3 linked regions of the Homo sapiens genome follow. The protein of the gene in region 2 purifies or fractionates together with the protein of the main gene of each other region. This does not show direct contact. Each region holds a gene or a part of one and is shown on either strand. Other genes may lie near its edges.

Region 1 (7,108 bases), on a different chromosome or scaffold from region 2:
CCTGTAGGCTTTATTCAATATATAGACTAAAATCCAGAAAACTTATTCTCAAGGAAAAAGGATGAAAACACCACCGGTCTAATTTCTTTTCTTTTTTTTTTTTTTTTTTTTTGAGACGGAGTCTCACTCTGTCGCCCACCAGGCTGGAGTGCAGTAGCGCGATCTCGGCTCACTGCAAGCTCTGCCTCCCGGCTCATGCCATTCTCCTGCCTCAGCCTCCTGAGTAGCTGGGACTACAAGCGCCCGCCACCACGCCTGGCTAATTTTTTGTATTTTTTTTAGTAGAGACGGGGTTTCACTGTGTTAGCCAGGATGGTCTCAATCTCCTGACCTCATGATCCTCCCGCCTCGGCCTCCCAAAGTGCTGGGATTACAGGCGTGAGCCACTGCGCCTGGCCACCACCGGTCTAATTTCAACACTGCAAGACAATGATTCCATCTTGCTGTTGGAACATTCTTCTCATGTTTGACACCGTTCCAAGGCACCAGCTTTGAACTAAAGATACACATATCTTTTATTTAAAGTACAGCAGAGCTAAATGAACACTGGCAAGTATCTCTTTGTAGACTACAGATGTTCCTTAATTAGGATGGGATTATGTCCAATAAACCCATTGTAAATTGAAAATACTTAGGTCAAAAATGCACTGAGGCCAGGCACAGGGGCTCATGCCTGTAATCCCAGCACTTGGGGAGGCCAAGGCGGGTGGATCACCTGAGGTCAGGAGTTGGAGACCAGCCTGGTCAACATGGTGAAATCCCATCTCTATTAAAAACACAAAAAGTTACTCGGGCATGGTGGCAGGTGCCTGTAATCCCAGCTACTCGGGAGGCTGAGGCAGGAGAATTGCTTAAACCCAGGAGGCGGAGGCTGCAGTGACCTGAGATCGCGCCACTGCATTCCAGCCCAGGTGGGAGAGTGAAACTCTGTCTCAAAAAAAAAAAAAAAAAAAGCATTGAATACACGTAATCTACCTAACATCATAGCTTAGCCTAGCCTGCCTTAAATGTGCTCAGAACACTTACATTAGCCTACAGTTGGGCAAACTCAGCTGGCAACACAGTGCCCTGTAGAGCAGGGGTCATTCCCCCTTCTCATGATGTGGCTGACGAGGAGCTATCTGGCATCTCGAGAGTATCTGGAGGCATACTGCTAGCCCAGAAAAAGATCAAAATTCAAAACGTCAAGTATGGTTTCCATAGAATGCATACTGCTTTCACACTATCGTAAAGTCAAAAAATTGTAAGTCAAACCATGGTAGTTTGGAGACCATCTGTACTTCAGAAGAATGTGGCGTATGTCATCAGGAAAAGGACCATATTGTTGAATCAGTAACAGTCTGCAGTAACAGAATCTGGAAGCTGAGAAACTTCTAGGATGTCTAGTTTCCCATATTAAAAATATAAATGGTAAAGGAATGAGAGAAGTATAGATAAGGAAGAAAAGGAAAAAGGCTCCCTCTGAAAGCAGGGTCACGAGGCCTGAGCGGCTGTGAAGTTGAGGGATTTTCATCACGGACGCAGTAAAATGCACAGCAGGTGTATTTCTTAGGTTTATCACCAAACTTTATAGGCAAGGAAGCCAACTTCAGAGTGAAGGGAATAAGAGGTGTTCCATTAAGTTCAAATACACCACCACACCTCCAGCTATAACTGTGAAAATTACAGGTGTGTGGCCTCAGATTGCTCACTGTATAAACCATCAAGGAGACCAGGAAACCCCAGGGGAGCAAATCCAAGGAGCAATCACGGTGCTTGGCAGTGAACAGGAGTGGCGCAGCCACGGCGAACGTGACCCATGAGGTCCCTAAGGAGGGCTCCCACACCGTGCCCCAAGCTGCTCTGCTCCTCCGTCCAGAGAAACGCACTCCGGCCCTCCCCGAGAATCCTGCCCTCTGTTGGGAGCGAGTCATACATTCCCCTAGGGCTAGTGGCGGACACTCTGAAAACATGATCCCTTGCTTCTCCCACCACACTGCACCCTCCTCTCGGTACTGTGGAGGACGCTGCAAGTGGGGAGTGTCCACACGTCACACCTGGAGCACGTTCCTGACAGCTGGAGCGCCAGCTGTGGAGTCAGAAGTCTGAGCCCACCACTGAGCAGTCACGCAACCTTACAGGCTAGTGACCTTCTTGTGACTTGGTGTCCTCACTGTGAAACGGACAAGTCAAGGTGCAGGAAAAGCTCTAAACTGCACGGGAGCAGTAACCACTCTTTCAGGGCCAGCCTTCTCAGATCACTGAAACGGGTGAGCAGTCACGAACCGGCATGGATGGGAGGTATTCTGTAAGCAGAGGTGCAGCACAGAGTACAAGGTCAACAGAGACCCAACCAAACATGAGTCTCTTTACTAACACTGAATCCAACATAACGTCCTTTCCTCCAAGAGTGACTGCATTTAGAGAGCAAGAGCCTGCCCCCGGCCTCACGGGCTGGCTCCAAGGACCAAAGAGACCTGCAGCGATTCCTACAAAAGAGCCAATAAAGACTCTCAGACTCGCATCTCTTCAGTTATGAGGAGGTCTTCCCTGTACTCTAGGGGCCCCACACTGTCCCTCTCATGCTGGAGGACAGGAAGGAATGCCCTCGGCAGGCCCTCCGAGCAGAACTCACCCCTCCTGGACACCCTCGCAGCTCCAGCTGAAGAGGAAGACACAATGAGGAGCCATGGACTGAGGCATCAGAACGGTACAAAGACCTCCCTGACCTTCCAGATCTTACTTTATAATGGAGGAAGATAACTTTTTTGGAATTAACACTTCTAATTTCTTTCTTTTTTTTTTTTTGAGATGGAGTTTTGCTCGTCACCCAGGCTGGAGTGCAATGGCACGATCTCGGCTCACTGCAACCTCCGCCTCCCGGTTTCAAGCGATTCTCCTGCCTCAGCCTCCCGAGTAGCTGGGATTACAGGTGTGTGCCACCACGCCTGGCTAATTTTGTATTTTTAGTAGAGATGGGTTTCTCCCATGTTGGTCAGGCTGGTCTCGAACTCCTCATCTCAGATGATCCGCCCACATCAGCTTCCGAAAGTGCTGGGATTACAGGCATGAGCCACCGCAACCGGCCGACACTTCTGATTTCTACTGAGGTTTGGTTCTGGAGTCTGACAGCCTGCTCGATAGCTACAGGCAGACCGCGCCCGGCCAACACTTCTGATTCCTACTGAGGTTTGTTTCTGGAGTCTGAGAGCCTGGTCGATAGCTACAGGACAGACACAGGCCTGGACTTCTTCCAGCCTCAGTCTCCTCACCCATGAAATGGGGCACAGCCACCAGTTTTCCAAGTGGGGTGAGAACCCACAATGGGTGCAAAACTAACGCTCACAATCACTAACATCTGCAGATCGACCAACACGATGATTCCATTCCCAAACGTTCCTTCTGGCTCTGTCACCCAAGGGTCTGGCTCTGTCACCCAAGCTGGAGTGCAGTGGTGTGATCTCAGCTCACTGCAACCTCCCCCTTCCGGCCTCAAGGGATCCTCCCACCTCAGCCTCCTGAGTAGCTGGGACTACAGGCATGCACCGTCATGCCTAATTTTTGTATTTTTTGTAGAGGTGGGGTTTCCCTATGTTAAGCAGGCTGGTCTCAAACTCCTGGGCTCCAGTGATCCACCCACCTCAGCCTCCCAAAGTGCTGGGACTACAAGTGTGAGCCACCACACTTGTTCCTTCACTGACTCTCAGATGTATGAGATCCACTTAGGCCTGACACCAGCTGCCTCAGCAATTCGCCATGGAGAGGTTCCCTTGTCTTATTTCATAGCCCCTGTCATAATTTCATCATCTTCCCGTGCCACATCATGTGATTTATAAGGTAATTCATGTAGCTCCTGATAGAAAAGGAGTCAAACTTCGGAAAAAATATCCACTCGCCGGGTGCAGTGGCTCACACCTGTAATCCCAGCACTTTAGGAGGCCAAGGTGGGTGGATCACCTGAGGTCAAGGGTTCAAGACCAGCCTGGCCAACATGGCAAAACCCCGTTGCAGTGAGCCGAGATCACGCCACTGCACTCCAGCCTGGACGACGGGGGGGGGGGAAAATATATACATACACACACACACACACACGTATATATATATTTATACATATATGTGTATATATTTATGTGTATATATACGTATATATATGTTTATATATATATGTACATATATACATAAATAAATATATAGACCCATCTCTAGACTTCCAGGTAATGATATTAATTTGAAATAAGATGACATGTAAGGCCAGGTGCCGTGGCTCATGCCTGTAATCCCAGCACTTTAAGAAGCCAAGATGGGAGGATCACTTGAGCCCAGGAGTTTGAGACCAGCCTGGGCAATACAGGGAGACCCTGTCTCTCTTAAAAAAAAAAAAAAAAAAAAAATAGCTAGGCGTGGACATCTGTAGTCTTAGCTACTGAGGAATGTGAGGCAAGAAGATCACTTGAGCCCAGGAGGTCAAGGCTGCAATGAGCTGAGGCCGCAACACCATACTCCAGTCTGAGCGATGAAGTGAGACCCTGCCTCAAAAAAAGATGACACGCAGGAGGAACAAGATGAAGAAGTAGGTTGGGTGTGGTGGTTCACCTGTAATCCCAGCACTTTGGGAGGCCGAGGCGGGCAGATCACTTGAGGTCAGAAGTTCGAGAACAGCCTGGCCAACATGGTGAAACCCCATCTCTACTAAAAATATAAAAAAGTTAGCCAGGCATGGTGGTGCACACCTGTAATCCCAGCTACTCGGGAGGCTGAGGCAGGAGAATCTCTTGAACCCAGGAGGCGAAGGCTGCAGTGAGCTGAGATAGAGCCACTGCACTCCAGCCAGTCTGGGCGACAGTGAGACTCCGTCTTAAAAAAAAAAAAAAAAAAAAAAAAAAGGACGGAGAGGTGCTGTACACCTTAAGAAAGAGTCCCCCTTAGAAGCAGTTCTCCCATTTGGTCGGCTGGATCCCAGACACTTGATTTTCCACGCCCTCTTCCCTGGGACTTCTGCGATCACAAGCAGAAGAGGGCAGATGGCATTTTAATAATATAGTAATTCCATCAGAAAAAACATGTGACTTAGTACTACTAATCTGACAGGCAGAAATGTAGGGAATTGTACTCAATGAATTTAACCAACTTCTCTCCATTTAGTACCAATTACACTTCATTCAACCAGAGAGGACTACAAAAAAAAACGAGTAAATTTAAGAGCTTACTGTAAACCACTTCATTTCGAAGAAACCTTCCTAAAACACTTAGAAGTTATTTTCCAAAAGATTTATATTTTATAAATTCAACAAAGGTTCTTCTTTTCCTTTAGAAAGCTCTTAGGTTTAAGATAACAGTTTGCATATGATTACTACTTTTTTTTAAATCTCCAAGAGTTTACATGAGAATGCTAGTAGTTCAGTCCTGAATGAAAACAGAGAAAGAGAGAAAGGAACTCCAAATTTAGCTACATCAGAAAGCTAGAAAACACTGTTTCAGTGCACACACTGGGCAGATTGCGCACATTAAAACCCACTCCCCTAGATCGCGCCCACCGCACTCCAGCCTGGGAAACAGAGCAAGACTCCATCTCAAGAAAAAAAAAAAAACCACTCCCCAGCAGCCTCTGCATTCATTACATGTTATGCTAACATACTGGATTTATGTTAAACTCTACAAACTGAAAGCTTTGATAGTAGGGGAATGTGTAGGTTATTATTAATTCAAGTTCTGTTTTTTTTTTATTACCAACCACATGCCAGACACAAGTGATGCACTAGAAATGCAAGCACAAGACACCAGCTCTGTCCTCAAGGAATGGGCAGTGTGGCTATTTAAGTGCTGGCACCTGCCAGTCGTCTGAATGGGGAGCATGCTTTTAGGGACAGTGCTAGGGACTGGTGGAGAACACAGCCACACTGTGGTCTGCCTGCCACCTCCTGGACCTCTCCACACCCGCAGAGGCCTTTGGCCTCTTTTCTTTCCCACCCACATTCACACCCTGGGTGACCTCATCTGATGTGACCTCCAGTCTATCTCCAGCCCAGGCTTATTCTTTTAGCTCCAAACCTGTAGACCCAAAAGCCCACTGGACACTGCTCTACAAGGATGTCTAACATCCACCTCACATTCAACACACATAAATCCAAACTCGCAACAGAAAGCTTCCCACCAGACAGGACCTCCCCAAGTCTTCCCCATCTGAGTTTCTTTTTTTTTTTTTTTTTGAGACAGAGTCTCGCTCTGTCGCCCAGGCTGGAGTGCAGTGGCGCAGTCTTGGCTCACTGCAAGCTCCGCCTCCCGGGTTCACGCCATTCTCCTGCCTCAGCCTCCTGCGTAGCTGGGATCACAGGCGCCCGCCACTATGCCCGGCTAATTTTTTGTATTTTTAGTAGCGACGGGGTTTCACCGTGTTAGCCAGGATGGTCTCGATCTCCTGACCTTGTGATCCGCCCACCTCGGCCTCTCAAAGTGCTGGGATTACAGGCGTGAGCCACCACGCCCGCCCCCCTCCATCTGAGTTGCTTAGCTCAGGCCATACACTATGGGGCCATCTTTAACTCCTCCCTCTCTACCCATCCCTCTCCCAACTTCCAATCTACAAACAAATTCTATTGTCTCAACCTCCAAAACACATGCAGAAGTCAACCTCTTACCCACCCTGAGCTAATCCACTGGCATCTCCTTGCTGGCTTGTTCAACAGTCTCTTAGCTGGTCTCGCTGCCTCTGCCCTTGCCCCTCTGCAGTACATTCTCAAAAGAGATGCCAGAGCAAGCCTGTTGAACACAGTCTATCATGTGACTCCTCCTCTAGAATGAAACCTTCCAAACGGCTGCCATCCTGTTCAGAATAAACACTGAGTCCTCACTATGAGCTGCCATCCTGTTCAGAATAAACACCGAGTCCTCACTATGAGCTGGCAAGGCCCCACTACACTGAGCCTAAGTCACCTTTCTATCCTCAGCTCCTGCTTCTCCCACCGCCACCCGCTGCACCTGAGCCACACCAGGCTCTTGCTACCTGCCCTTCCTCCTACACTGCTTTAAGTCTTCGTCAAAACTTAAACCTTCAGAGTGAGACCCTTCCTGGCCATCCTGGCTACAATTCCAATCCTCCTCATCCTTGGCCCAAATCACCATCCCCCAGGAG
Region 2 (7,501 bases):
CTCAGGTGAAATCTGGTTGGATACAAATCTCCAAGTTAAAAGAAACCTCAAAGATCATTTAATCTTGTCCTTTTAAATATTTAGTAACTGTGAATGGTAGTAAATATTTATCCAAATTATGTTTCTTAGACTGTAAAAGAATTTCCAGGCTGGGTGTGCTGGCTCACGCCTGTAATCTTAGCACTTTGGGAGGACGAGGCAGGAGGATCACTTGAGGCCAGGCGTTCGAGAACAAATTGGGCAACAAAATCAGACTTTAGCTCTATTCAAAGTAAATAAAATTAAAAAGAAAATTAGGGGCCGGGCACGGTGGCTCACGCCTGTAATCCCAGCACTTTGGGAGGCCAGGGCGGGAGGATCACCTGAAGTTAGGAGTTCAAGACCAGCCGGACCAACATGGAGAAACCCCATCTCTACTAAAAATACAAAATTAGCCAGGCATGGTGGCGCATGCCTGTAATCCCAGCTACTTGGGAGGCTGAGGCAGGAGAATTACTTGAACCCGGGAGGCGGAGGTTGCAGTAAGCCAAGATCACATCATTGCACTCCAGCTTGGGCAACAACAGCGAAACTCTGTCTCTAAATAAATAAATAAATTAGCGGGGTATGGTGGCACACACCTGTAGTCACATCTAGCCAGGAGGCTCAGGTGAGAGGATTGCTTGAGTCCAAGAGTTCGAGGGTGTACTGAGCTATGATCGCACCACTATACTCCAGCCTGGGTGACAGAGCAAGACCCTGTCTCAAAAAAAAAAAAAAACAACAAAACTTGAGCTAAATGGTGATTGAATTATTTAAAATTAAATTGATGAAATAATTTAAGAATATGTGGAAAGAAAGAAATTTACAGTCATTCCTCAGGTATAAATTAAATATTTTCCACCTCAAAATCCAATGACATGAGATATAAATGTATAGTTCACATAAGTAATACATTTCTCACATGGTTACAGAACCTTTCTGATCAGGCTCCGGTTGAATTTTCCAGCCTTATCTCATTTCTCCTCCCTCCTTCCAACCCTGTTTTTTCCTCCTCCTCTCCTTAGCTACAGCTTTACTAATCTTCCTACCGTGAGCCTCAAACCCACGCTGCTCTCAGGTCTCAGGGCCTATGTACAAGTAATTCCCACTGCCTGGAATCCCTTGCCCTCATTCTTTGCTGGGTCATTCTGCAGACCCAGTACTACTTCCTCTTGGGAGCCTTTGTCCATCTCCTCTTCCCCCAATCTCCGAACCCCACCAAGACCTCAGGAGTTCTTGAGCAAGCCTCTGCTTAGTTTTCCTGGGATGACCAAAACTAACACTGTCCGATCCGTTGTTCAATCCTCAATCCCTAGAACAGAGCTGCAACATAACAGGCACTATAAATGAATGAATGGATAAAGACAGCACTGAAGAACTTGAAATTATAGTTTACACATGAAAACAGTAACATAAATCTGAAGAAATAAAGTTCTTTTTTTTGTTTTTTCGAGATGGAGTCTCGCTCTGTCACCAGGCTGGAGTGCAGCGGTGCAATCTGGCCTCACTGCAACCTCCGCCTCCCGGGTTCAAGCGATTCCCCTGCCTCGGCCTCAGCGTCCCAAATAGCTAGGACTCCAGGCACGCGCCACCACACCTGGCTTTTTTTTTTTTTTTTTTTTTTTTTTTTTTTTTTTTGTATTTTAGTAGAGATGGGTTTCACTATGCTGGCCAAGATGGTCTCAATCTCCTGACCTCGTGATCCGCCTGCCTCAGCCTCCCAAAGTGCTGGGATTACAGGCGTGAGCCACCGGGCCAGGCCAAGTTGCTGTTTTTAAAAGGTATATTTCAACTCACTTCTCTAAGGCGGGAATATACACAGCCTGCCATCAGTTTGACATAAAACAAAAATTTTAGCGTTCTTGTATGCTAAATTTCTTTTACTAGGTTAAAAAAATGTAGAATCCAAAGAGCTGTAAATGCAAATGACAAATACTGTACAAAATCTATCAAGCAACTATAAGTCACAACTTGCAAGCTTTCTCCTCAGCAAATGAGTTAAAAGGAAAAGTATTTGAAACTTTCTTGGTGGAAAACGAATGACCTTTAAAAATGCCAACATTTTCCCCAGAGAATAGATTTGGTCTGAGTTCTTCATTTCTGAAATTGTACAAGATAAGACGACTTGGTTTGAGAGTCAAACTGCATCCTTCTATAAAGGTTTTAGATAAATTTTAAGTCTCCATACAAAACACTCCCCTTATTTTGAGAACAAAAGGAACAATAAGACAGCTTAGGCGGGGCAGAGAAAGAAAGGCCTTGAAACAAAGTCCCTGGAAAGGTAAAAACAACAACAAAAATAGTAAGTTAGAGCTCGTGTTTAGATCTGATAACTCAAAACTGCACAACTTTTGCCATACATCGAAAGCAACATGGGAAAACAGAAAAAGAGATTACAAACATTTTTTGAGTGTCCTAACTTGTAGAACCCCTAAGAATGAATCAAATACACTTGGACAAAGCTCTTCTTTTCTCTCTCTCTCCTTCAAGTCGCAGACTAGGGGTGTGGGGCGGGGGGCGGGGAGTAAGACGGGGTCTCTAATAAATACAAGACCCAGCCTCGGACGTGTTTAATTGCTGACATTTTAGAAGAAAAATGGGCTACTTACAATTAATGAACCAAACTACCAAACTAAAATCATGAGTAGGAGGAGGAGTAAATGGAACCGTCCGGGCGAAGTTTCAGGAAGACGCACGCTGGGGTCGCTGCGCCCTTCCCCACCCATACCTCGGGGCTCTCCAGTCGCTCCCAGCCCCCAGCGCGGACTCTAGGGCGCCGGCGGCCCAACCATACAGACTTGGCAGGATGTAGCCCCCTTCTCCCCTCTCCAGGAGAGAAAAGCGCGAGGAGACGCAAACCGTATTTCCGTGTCCGAGCGTTGAAACCTGCGGAGTCGCGCGCGGGGCGCCCACACTCGTTCCCGGGGAGCCCCAGCCCGGTCGCCCGCCCCGGTCCCAGCTCCAGCCCGGGCCTCCCTTACTCTGGGGCTCCATGGTCGGCTGCTCCCCGGCCTCCGCGGGCGAACCCCCGGACTCCTAACGCCTCTCAGCCAGGGCCGGCGTCGCTACGGTTGCCCTGACAACCCGGAGGCGAAGTGGGCAGAACTAAAGGGACGGCGAGCGGGAGGGACCAAAAGCCGCAGGAAGTGAGGGAGCGCGTGAGGACCCGCGCGTCGCCGGGGACACTGAGCGAGGGTAGCGGCCAGGTCACCGGCTGAGGACACTGCTCCTGAAGCCCGGTCAGGCGGTCGCGCCCTCCCTGGCGGCCCCCGCGGCCCCGCAGGACCTGTGCCCCGACGTCGCCGACCCGCGGTCCCCGCTGTCGCCGACCCGCGGCGTCCGTCGGGCGAGTGGGCCTGCCCGCGGGTAAGGCGCCGGCCCTGGGCCGCCCTCCCGGGAATCGGGAGCCGCCGCTGCAGGTAACAGCGGGGCCCCGGCGGCGGAAGGGGTCGGGGGTCGGCGCAGGGGCGGGCGCGCCCCGAGCCGGGTGGGCGGCCCCGGCGCACCTGTTGTAGCCGCCTGGGGGTCCCCTGCCCGCAGTTGGCCGTGGACGTTCCCCGCCCCGACTCCGAAACGCCGAGGGCGGCCTCCGCGCCTCCTGCTCCGGGAGCCGCGCCTCAGCGGGAGGACGGAGCCCTGCGGGCAGCCCTCGCACCAGGGGCTCCCTCCGAGCCCGGGCATGGGCCGGGCCTGGGGCGGTCCCTCGAGCCCCCCTGACGGGAAGCGTGGAGCAATGCGAGCCGCCGCCGTCGTCGCTGTCGTCCCCAGTGAGCCTGGCGCGTCTCCTGAATCGCGAGAGCCAGGAGCACGGTTTTGCCCGGCTTTGCCCCGTCATCCCCGTGTCCCATTTCAGGCAGGGGGCCCGGGTTGGATCTTTCTCGCTGGCTTCGTTTTTTGTGTGTTGATTTGTTTCAGTCCTTCGCGTTTCCGGTTGAGTTACGGAATCTGCCCACACGTTTTGTGGCCAAACTTTGTAGGGCTGTGAAACAATGTAACATTATCCCACACAATAGTCTTTCATACTGGTTTTAAAACACAGTGATTCAGGGTTTGCTTTAAGGAAGCTTTGAGGATCACAAGAGATTATTATCTGGTAGGTTGTAAAAATTCAAACAACCAGGAGAGTATCATAGGTTCCGGAACACCAGAAGGAGGAAAGAAAAATGGAGACGAGAGAAAAAGGATAAGCAAGAAAGTGCAGGGGCATTAAGGGTGTGGGGGGCTGCAGGATTGATTTGGTATTCAGGTCTGGAGATTATGGCCCCTCTATTAATTCCAACCGCTGCTCCAGACAGTACTTGAGGGAAATGGAAGGAAGAGCCGTTTTGGGGGTCATGGAAGTGATTACTAATCTTGCCAGTAGAAAGATTTCCACTCCATGGATGACAAGGACACTAAGGAGAATTACTTTCCTCTTAGGGAATCATTGAGAGGTTAATTGAACTTGAGAAGCATATATTCTGTGATGGAAACTGACATTTATTATATTCTTCCAAATTAGGTTTTCCCCCTCTCAGACTATATGGGGACTTTTTCAGATTAATTGTCAAAACAAGAAGGTTTATGTGTGGATATTGACAAGCAGCGTGATATATACAGAACACATAATTCTTAAGCTGAAGTATTAAGGTAATAAATTAAGGGTGGAAAGTAAACACTTCATGGAACCTTAACTCCCTGTTCCTGAAATTTAGAGACAGGGGCTTCATTTTTAGACAGAAAGTATAAAGATCAGCAGTACTCCTGTATCCAGTGGTTCTCAAGTTCTAGTTTACATATCATTAGCAAAATCACAAAGCGGTCTTTTCATTCAAGATACAAATAGAGTGATCAGTATATCATAATCAAAAGTGACAAGATAGTGATTTAAAAAACACCTGGCATTTATTGACAAAAGAAAAGGTAGGATTAAGTCTGCTCAAACAGTAAAGGATTAGCATTAGTATTTTTTTAAAAAGAAGAAACAACAGTGCAGGTCTCTATGCTAAAGTAATAAGGACTGAAGAAGTTTTAAGTTTGGAAAAAATGGGGATATGTATTGGTGAAACACTTTGTAATCATATAGAATGATTATTTTATCAGCAGCTGTTAAGTTGACTTTGAGGAAATTTTGAATTGAAATACTTTAGGTGACAAGTAAAGGCAACTGTGAAAAGCAACATTTGATTTTAGGGGACAGGGTACCTGTGAAAGAAGACTGGTTAGGAGTGGAAGTCAGGCGTAAAGGCACTGAAATGTCCGAGGCAGGGACAATATTCAGTTTCTCTTCCTCTATCACCTTGTGCAATGTACCTGTTAAATGTTTGTTGAATGAGTGAGAAGGGCTTTAGAGAAATTGTTTTGGATATAGGGATACACTTTACTATTGGAGAAAACACCCGAGATCAGAAAGTTGCTAATGAGATAGGGGTGGGGGATGAATGGTAAAGACACTCTACCTTTTTGGAGTTTTCTACCATTGTGTTTTATTTCTTTTCACGGGCATGTTCAGTATGTTATTAGTGGTCAAATGAAAAGGAATAAAGTTCTATATATATTTTTTTAAGTCTCCAAGCTCATTACTAGATAGAATAGTTACATTATTGTTTACTTTGCTGATGTTTAACTAAATGTAGCAAACTGAAGCATTATGGATCGGGAATAACAAAGTAACAATGAAGAGACAGATGTAGTCTTTTTCTTATTTAAATCTCTTGACTACCTCAGAATTCAAAGTAGAAATAACTTTAGTGGGAGGTTAACATTATTTAATGCAAATAGGTTGATAAAAAATGTAGCAAATGAACATGTTATTAATAGTTCTGTCTTCTAGCCTTACTGTGGTAAGTTGAAGGAAGTTTTCATTTTTGTTTTTGTTGGTTTTAGGGTTTTTGTTGATTTTTGTTTTCTTTACCAGAGTGAGGGTACTTTTTTCTCTATCTGATACTTTCTGAAACTCTTAGGGAGTTCTGTCAAAGGTGGAAAACAATCAATTTCTATTTTTGGTGTTTTCCTCTTTGTTCTCCAAACTTGTCATGGTCTACATTCAATTTGTTGCACTCAAATGGAATGTCTATCTCTCCGCCCTTTACTCGTCCACAGTCTAAAGGACACTGGCCGGGCGCGGTGGCTCACGCCTGTAATCCCAGCACTTTGGGAGGCCAAGGCAGGCGGATCACGAGGTCAGGAGATCGAGACCATGCTGGGTAACACGGTGAAATCCCGTCTCTACTAAAAATACAAAAAATTAGCCGGGCATGGTGGCGGGCGCCCGTAGTCCCAGCTACTCGGGAGGCTGAGCCAGGAGAATGGCGTGAACCCGGGAGGCGGAGCTTGCAGTGAGCCGAGATTGGGCCACTGTACTCCAACCTGGGTGACAGAGCAAGACTCCGTCTCAAAAAAAATAAAATAAAAGTTAAATAAATAAATAAATAAATGGGACTGCAGGAGCATGCTGCCCCAGTTTCTGGAAAGTCTTTCAGGATTAGGCTAATGCCCACTAAATGCACTTCGCTCTCCTACTGGGGGTGCTACACGGTTTAGCATTTAGCTCTGTAGGATGCTTTCCTATAGAATTTTATCTCATATGGATGGATCTTGTACCTCTGACTGGATTAAATATGTTTGGAGCTAAGTGCATGACTTACGCTTCTTCTGTGTTGCTTTTAGCACATGGTGGTCTTCATTGTGTACCTGATAATTTAAGTAGGGTAATAATAGAGAGGTCAAACCTTTAGTTAGGGGTCATTGCATTAATTTCTAGCTTTGCCCTTTTGGAAAACCAGAAGCTATTATTTTGTCATTGATAACTTGGGATAATAAAACCTGCAATGGTTGTCTGATAGTCTAGTTGTGAGAATCAAGATAAATGTGATTATAGATTATGAATGAAAATATCTTGTATGTCGTAATGAACTTTTTTAATATAAAGGGCTGTTATTGACTTAGGCATAGAGCAGACATTGATTCCACATTCACAATGTGTTAGGTACTTCCTGGGCTCTGGAATTGCATGTCATAAAGGGTAAACAGGAAATGACCAGGTGCTTCCGAAGCAGAACAGCCTGGGCTGAGGCACGAAGGCCGGGAGAACAACTAAGCCGTGGTTTATTGTGGCTGAACTGGAGAATACTTCTTCATGTGTATTAGCAGAAAATGGGAGGAAGTAAGCCCAGAAAGGCAAATGTGGGCCAAATCAGAAGGAACCTAAGGACCATGAGTTTATTTTCCTTAAAGGTAATAAGGAGGATTTGGGTCAGTGACTGGATCAGTTTTGCATTTGGAAAGGATCACTGGCAACACTCAAATGACAGATTGGTAGAGAGCCTAAATGAGAGACAAAAAAATTGGAGATGTTGCTGAAGCTCAGTGAAGAAATGAAGAGAACCAGGAGAGCGATGGTGGGAATAAGAAGGAGGGGCCACTAAAAAAGGTAGAATTGGCAGATCTTGGTGATATAGGAGATGAGGAAGGAGAAGCCAGGGATGACAGTGGGGTGATA
Region 3 (7,108 bases), on a different chromosome or scaffold from region 2:
TTTGTTTGGTATCCTGACAGTATCTGTATATAATTTAAATTCAAAATTCATGCTAATTAGTCTTCTAAAAGACGAATTTAACCTCCACTCCATGTCAGCCACTCATCCTGGACATATTTCAACATTTGGAAATGTTCCACCTTCTATTCCTTTATGGAGTATAACCCTGTATATATAACTCTGGTTATATACAGTAAAACTCTGATCCTTTCCTACAACTTAATTCCCCAGTTTATGCTCAACTTTATGTCTTTAGTTGCATATCTACTTAGAAATAACTCCACTTTCAGCTAGTTTAATCATAACACAGAAAAGCTTTTATTATCATAGCAAAATCACTTGATTCCTCATCCTTTAGCAAGAAGAGCTGGTAAGTTACAATGTTCTTTGGATGGGTGAGAGCACTGAATATCTGAGTTTACTTTCACAAATTATAACTTCAAACTAACCTTTTGAAATCTTCTGCCAGCAGTAATGCCACATTAAAAGATTTCTAACATAAGTTGCTGAATTTCAGGCATACATGCAATGAGAGTCACCCTGTCAACAGTAAGCAGGACAGTGGCTTAGTGGGTGGGCAGCTACATACTAATTAATTCACTGATTATCACATTAAGATGTTTCTTCTTGGAGCTGGGTTCATAGTTTCATCAGATTTTAAAATGGGCCAATGTCCAATGCCCCTGGCCCACAAAATTAAGAACCAGTGACTTACATACAGATAGCAGTATATCCTTTATAAACTTAAGAATACCTACACCCCCAGCAACCATTTATTTAATATATTCCAGGAACTACTTCTTGAAAACCCGTAGTGCACTAATAATGAGTAGTCTGTTAAGAAAATAAGTCCCACTCTACATAACAAATAGAATACAAATAATACATCTTACCCTCTCTTAACAGACTCCAGAAATTGAGCATTTGTTGGTTCATTGTAAGGTCTCAATTCTCCATCATCTAAACTGAAACCATTGCTCCACAGTTTAAGCAAAATCTGAACCTTTTGGGTATAGAAAAAAAAAAAATATATATATATATATATATATTCACATATACATAAGAATATATCTCCCCCAAATAATTTTAAGTTCCAAATGTGATATCCTAAAACGTATTTACTTAATTTAAAATAGGGAGTTATTTCTACTATTCTTTATTCATAGTGAAAGACATTAATGAAACCACATGTGTTTGTTTAGCTAGTTTGCATTCAGCTTAACAAACTGACAATGGCTGCAAATACCAAAGGTCCTGCAGGTGGACCCTGGCCTCGAAGTACAATTATTGGTGGATGGTTCACAAGAAAATGAAAGCAATGAGAAGAGCTGTACTCCATGATTCCCACTTCCTTCATTTTCCTTCATCTGCACCCATACTCTTCTTTGCTACAGAGCTTAAATATTCATCCTAAGGGGAACAGAATTTCCAGTGACCTTCCAAGAAACTATCAATGTCTAAAATAAAATTAAAACTCCAAAATTTCAAAAGGCAACAGAAACAAAGAATGACTTTAGGTGTTCTTCATTTACACCTCACCTCATTTTAGATTATGAAAATATACCATTTATAATAATAACTATATATTTGTTCATTTTTCTTTTTTTAATTGATTTTTTTATCTTAAAGATCCAGGGTCTTACTATGTTGCCCAGGGTGGTCTCGAACTCCTGGGCTCAAACAATCTGCCCACCTCAGTCTCCCAAAGTGCTAGGATTATAGGCGTGAGCCACTGTGCCTGGCCCAAGTTCATTTTTTTAAACACCTTTTTTTTTTTTTTTTTTTTAAAGAGATAGGGTCTGGCTATGTTTTCCGGGCTGGCCTTGAACTTCTGGGCTCAAGTGATCCTCCTACCTCAGCCTCTGGAGTAGTTGGGACTCCAGATGCATGTCACCACGCCTGGCTGCAAATTCATTTGGAAAATGAATCACACATTCTTTCAACAAATAGTTCCATATCTCTAAGTGCAAGGCATAATTGTGATACAAAACATAAAGATCGAGACTGAAAACTCACACATCATTGGTCCTTTTAACCCATGTTTTAAAAAGTAACAAAAATATATTTGTATTATCAATTCTTAATTTTAAAACCAACAGTTTTAGTAACTAGAAGCAAATATTTATACTTTTTCATTTTGATTATTGTACCTACATCTTGCAGCTGATTTTCTCCATAGATATATTCAGACCGCTTACAAAAAGAACTACCCAATCTGTATCCTCCACCTGTAAATGACTAAAATACATAGCAAGTGAGTTAAAATTCACAAAGGATTATTCAGCAAAAAGTTATTATGTGATATGTATTTTAAAACTAGATTAATTCTAATTAGCCAAAGTGGCTCATACTGGGGAGCCTTCAAGAACCAAAATTACCATAAGACTTGACTAAAAGATCATTTCAAACCATTGACGAATAATGAAATGAAAACCAAAATTTAAGTTTCATTACAGCAGTGGTTCTCAACAATGGATGTCAAAATTATCATAGAGGCTTTTTTAAAAAGACACGTTTCTAGGCATATCCCAAATTTATTGAACCATAATACCTGAAGCCATCAGGTAGTTTAGATAACCTCCCCAAATGATTCTGATGGAGAAATTCCAGGTTGAGAAATGCTACTTGTAAGAATGTATGAAATGATACCACAAAAGACACGTAACTGTTCGTCTTTAGTATATCAATATTGTGTCAGTTGGTAACAATTATAAAAGCTGTATAGAGGTGGCTCATGCTCGTAATCCCAGCACTTTGGGAGGCCGAGGCAGGCGGATCACGAGGTCAGGAGATCGAGACCACCCTGGCTAACATGGTGAAACCCCGTCTCTACTAAAAATACAAAAAATTAGCTGGGTGTGGTGGCGGGTGCCTGTAGTCCCAGCTACTCTGGAGGCTGAGGCAGGAGAATGGTGTGAACCCGGGAGGCGGAGCTTGCAGTCAGCCCAGATGGTGCCACTGCACTCCAGCCTGGGCAACAGAGCGAGACCCTGTCTCAAAAAAAAAAAAAAAAAAAAAAAAAGAAATTTAGAAAGGTACAAAAGCAATTCAATGGAGAAAGGAGTGCCTTTCAAGAAGTGATGCTGGAGCAACTGGACATCCATAAGCAAAACAATAAACTCTGGTGTCAACCTCACACCTTATATAAAAAATTCAAATAGATCATAGCTTTAAATGTAAAGCTGTAACATTTTTCCAGATAACAAAGGAGAAAATATTTGGGACCTACAGTTAAGTAAAAAGTTCTTAGACAATACAGCAAAAGCATGATCCATAAAAGAAAAAAAAGGAATAAATTGGACTTTATCCAAGTTTATAGCTTTTCCTTAGTGAAAAATCCTGCTGAGGATAAAAATATGAATGACATTCTGAGAGAAAATATTTACAAACCATGTATCTGACAAAGGACCCATACCTATTAAAATATACAAAGAATTCTCAAAACTCAACAGTAACAAAATAATCCAATTAGAGAATGGGAAAGTAATGAAGAGATATTTCCTTGAAAAGAATAATACAGATAATGGCAAGGAAGCACATGAAACGATGTTCATCACTAGCTATTAAGAAAATGCAAATTAACATCATTAGTTATTAGACAAATAAAATAAAACCATGGCATGTTATCACTATACACCCATCAAAATGGCTAAAATTAAAAATAGTGACAATACCAAGTGCTGAAAAGGATGCAGAGAAACTTGCTCTCTCATATATGTGGGAATATAAAATGGCACAACCACTCTGGAAAATAGTTTGGCTGTTTCTTAAACTAAACATACACTTAATGTATGATCTACCAATTGCACTTCTGAGCATTTATCTCAGAGAAATAAAACCATAAGTGAGTAAAAAAACCTGTACCCAATTGCTCACAGCAGCTTTATTTGTAATAGTCAAAAGCTGGCAACTAAAATATCCCTCAATAAATGAATGGTTAAACTGTGGTATATCTATATAAAATGCTACTCGGGAATTAAAAAGGAACAAAGTTGTGATACAAGCAATAACTCTGACAGATCTGAAGGGCATTATGCCAAGTGAAAAAAGCTATTCCAAAAGGTCACATATTGTATGACTCCATTTGTATAACACTGTAGTTTCACCATGTTGGCCAGGCTGGTCTTGAACTGTGATCTGCCTGCTTCGGCCTCCCAAAGTGCTAGGATTACAGGCATGAGCCACCACACCCGGCTGGTTTAACACTCTTAACATGATAAAATTATAGAGATGAAAACCCGACTGGTATTGGCTAGAGGTTAGGGATGGCATGAGAGACGGGGTGGGTGTGAGTGCAAATGGTAGGCTATGAAGGAGAGTTTCAGTTGGGTGATTACACATGTGATAAAAGGACATAGACAGAGAGAAATGCCAAATTCCTGGCTTTCATATTATACTACAATCATGTGAAACGTAACCATTGGGGGGAACCATTGGGGGAAACCATTGAAGTGAAAGGTACATGAAACCTCCCTGTATTCTTTTTGCAAATGCCTGTGACTCTACTAATTATTTTGTAATTAAAAGGTAAATTAAAAAGTTGTTCAGAAATGTAAGAAATTGTCTCAACTTTCAATCATTAATAGAAATATTATAATTTTATAAAAATGAAACAAATATTTAAAACAGAAATATACAATTAGAAAAACAATGTTTGCAAATAATAGAAAAATGAAAGAGGAGGTAAAATATAGAAACAATGTATTTAGTTTAAAATTGAGCACTGACCTTAGATTTATCATCACCTGAAGCTCTTGTGGCTTCATTCAGAGGGACAGCCCCATGTTCCCTTGCCTCTTTGAAAAGTTCATTCACAATTTTCCCAGTTGAAGGTCGAACTATATTTAATCCACTGTATTCATGTTCACTTGAGTAAAACCTTTAAACATTTTAGTTCATGAATAAAAACTTAGGATAACAGACATAAACTGAAGTAAAAAGCTACATAGTCTTATGAAAATAAAAGTATTTTATTTAAAAAGAGGCATTATTTTGACTTCTATGAGAATATTTAATTTTTAAAATGGGATTAAGGAAAAGTATAATAAATAGGAAATCATATACTTTCTCACTGAGTTTGCAAAGATTGATTCTAAGGGCAAGTTCAGCCTCCAGCACGGCAACTGGCTTGCTTGCTGATCCCTCAGCCTTCTGTAACTGCTTATCACATACATCTCATTCACTAATTCAGCACTTCTGATGTAGAAGGAAAAGCAGTGTCAACAGTCAAAAGATAGTCCCTTCTCCCTAAGAAGGCCACACTCAGTAGAGACCTAGTTAGTGACGAGATCTTTAGATTTAGACAGTATAAACAGCTAATTCTAAACTAAAGGGTTATCTAGAGAGGATTTATCTTTCAGAGATTTTTGGATTTAAGAGACCTACTCCCTTAAAAGCCCCTGCGTTTGTTAAAAGTAAATAATTTAGACAGTAATTTTTTGGCGACCAATTTCTACTTTGACTCCAACTTCATAAATGGTCCTAGGAAACATAAAAATTACCTTTACGTAAGATTAATAACCTACTTTTATCTTTCAAGATTTTTTTCTATCAAGAATATCAGAAACTATAAACAATGAAGTATCAACATGGAGACTTCCAGGGTAAGATGACAATCAAACTTCAGTTGTTAAAATACTTATAACTCTCCAATCCAATTCCAAATTCACACTGAACTGACACATAGAACAAAACAATGGGGGGAAATGATATCTGCCTTGGAGACTAGGAATGGAATTCACCTTCAAGGCTTTCTCCTAAATTAGAATATGCAAAACTGAGTAAGATAGAGGAAAGAACAGACCAGCTCTCACTTTGCAGTAAAGGAAGGAAAAGATCCATCAGGATGGAGAACAAGGAGACACCAGGAGAACCCTACTAAACCCCACAAACTGCAGAAGGTGGAGGTGGGGCTTCATCCTGCCAGTGCTCTGGAGAAGTACACTGGGCCCAAATTTATCTAGAGCAGGAGCCTATGGAAGCCCTTGTCCCAAGCTTACACTCAAGGGTCCAGAGTAGCAAGCAAGGTTGAACACTGCCCTAGTTGGCTTTTAAGACAAGCCTTAGTGTTAGAAGCAGATTATTTTAGGGAGCGACGACAAACACAGAAAAGCAAAGCAACACTTCCTGCTGCAGCTGTCTGCTGCCGTAACACTCCTCCCCTCTCTGGAGTGCCCTGGAAACGAGGAATGGAAGTCACCTTCAAGGCTTTCCACATCTCTAATCTGGCAAAGTGAATAATCATTCCTTTTTATCTCAGTCTTAGTGAGAAAGACCTTACCGCAAAAATCGGTCATAGCAAATGATTTCCTATCTCCTTTACGGTTAACGGTTTTTATTATTTGAAATCTTTGCCTACTCTAAGGTCATAAAGATATTCTATTTTCTTCCAGAAATTTGTTTTAATTTCTATATTTAGATCCACAACCCATATGGAACTGACGTTTATAGGTGGTATAAGGTAGAGGACAAGAACTATTTTTTCTCTACATAAATGTCCATTTGTCCCAGTACCACCTAATGAAATTCTGCCCCTCACTGCTCTGCACTGTCATAAATCAAGTTGCCTATGATTCTTGAGTTCTCGTATTTTGGTCCATGGTCTACTGTCAGTTCTTACTCTCTTAACCATTGCAGCTTTACAATAAGTCTTTGCATGCAGCAGTGTAAGTCCTCAACTTTAATTCTTCATGAATGTTTGGGGCAAAAATATTTATTGATTGCTGAAGTAATTCTCTATACTCATTCAAACTAACTTATTAAATATAAGTGAAAAGGAATAAAAGATAGGCATCTGTAGTACAGAATTAGTACTCAGCTGGGCCTTAAAAGGATTTAGGACATTAGGACTTAGATAAGCACAGAGGACAAGGGACAAAATTCTAGGAATGAAGAGGAACACAGGAGGAAAACATCAAAATGACCAGAGGAATCAGAAAAAGAATCAGTCTTTTACAGTTTTCTTTGTATGCAATTATGTCATTACACATAATGAGCTTTATTTATTTCCAATTTGTATACTTTTGTTTTTCTAATCTCATTGTGCTGACTAAAACCTCCAGTACAAGTTGAATGAAAATTGTGATAGGGGTTACCCACTGATAATGTT

Evidence for each region.
Region 1: the proteins of FANK1 (region 2) and ATG4B purify together in Homo sapiens (affinity purification with mass spectrometry; 3 studies listed by BioGRID and IntAct, with this or other methods). This does not show direct contact.
Region 3: the proteins of FANK1 (region 2) and UBXN2B purify together in Homo sapiens (affinity purification with mass spectrometry; 3 studies listed by BioGRID and IntAct, with this or other methods). This does not show direct contact.

Annotation. Positions count from the first base shown.
Region 1 is NC_000002.12:241,640,627-241,647,734, reverse strand, and holds part of ATG4B (cysteine protease ATG4B), read right to left. Parts: intron 1-7,108. UniProt on the Homo sapiens protein: Cysteine protease that plays a key role in autophagy by mediating both proteolytic activation and delipidation of ATG8 family proteins. Required for canonical autophagy (macroautophagy), non-canonical autophagy as well as for mitophagy.
Region 2 is NC_000010.11:125,892,157-125,899,657, reverse strand, and holds the start of FANK1 (fibronectin type 3 and ankyrin repeat domains protein 1), read right to left. Parts: upstream 3,095-7,501; 5' UTR 3,016-3,094; coding exon 3,003-3,015; intron 2,853-3,002; exon of another isoform or gene 2,750-2,852; intron 1-2,749. UniProt on the Homo sapiens protein: Through the activation of JUN and AP-1-mediated transcription, may regulate apoptosis.
Region 3 is NC_000008.11:58,428,290-58,435,397, reverse strand, and holds part of UBXN2B (UBX domain-containing protein 2B), read right to left. Parts: intron 4,880-7,108; coding exon 4,729-4,879; intron 2,239-4,728; coding exon 2,155-2,238; intron 1,004-2,154; coding exon 894-1,003; intron 541-893; coding exon of another isoform or gene 483-540; exon of another isoform or gene 295-482; intron 1-294. UniProt on the Homo sapiens protein: Adapter protein required for Golgi and endoplasmic reticulum biogenesis. Involved in Golgi and endoplasmic reticulum maintenance during interphase and in their reassembly at the end of mitosis.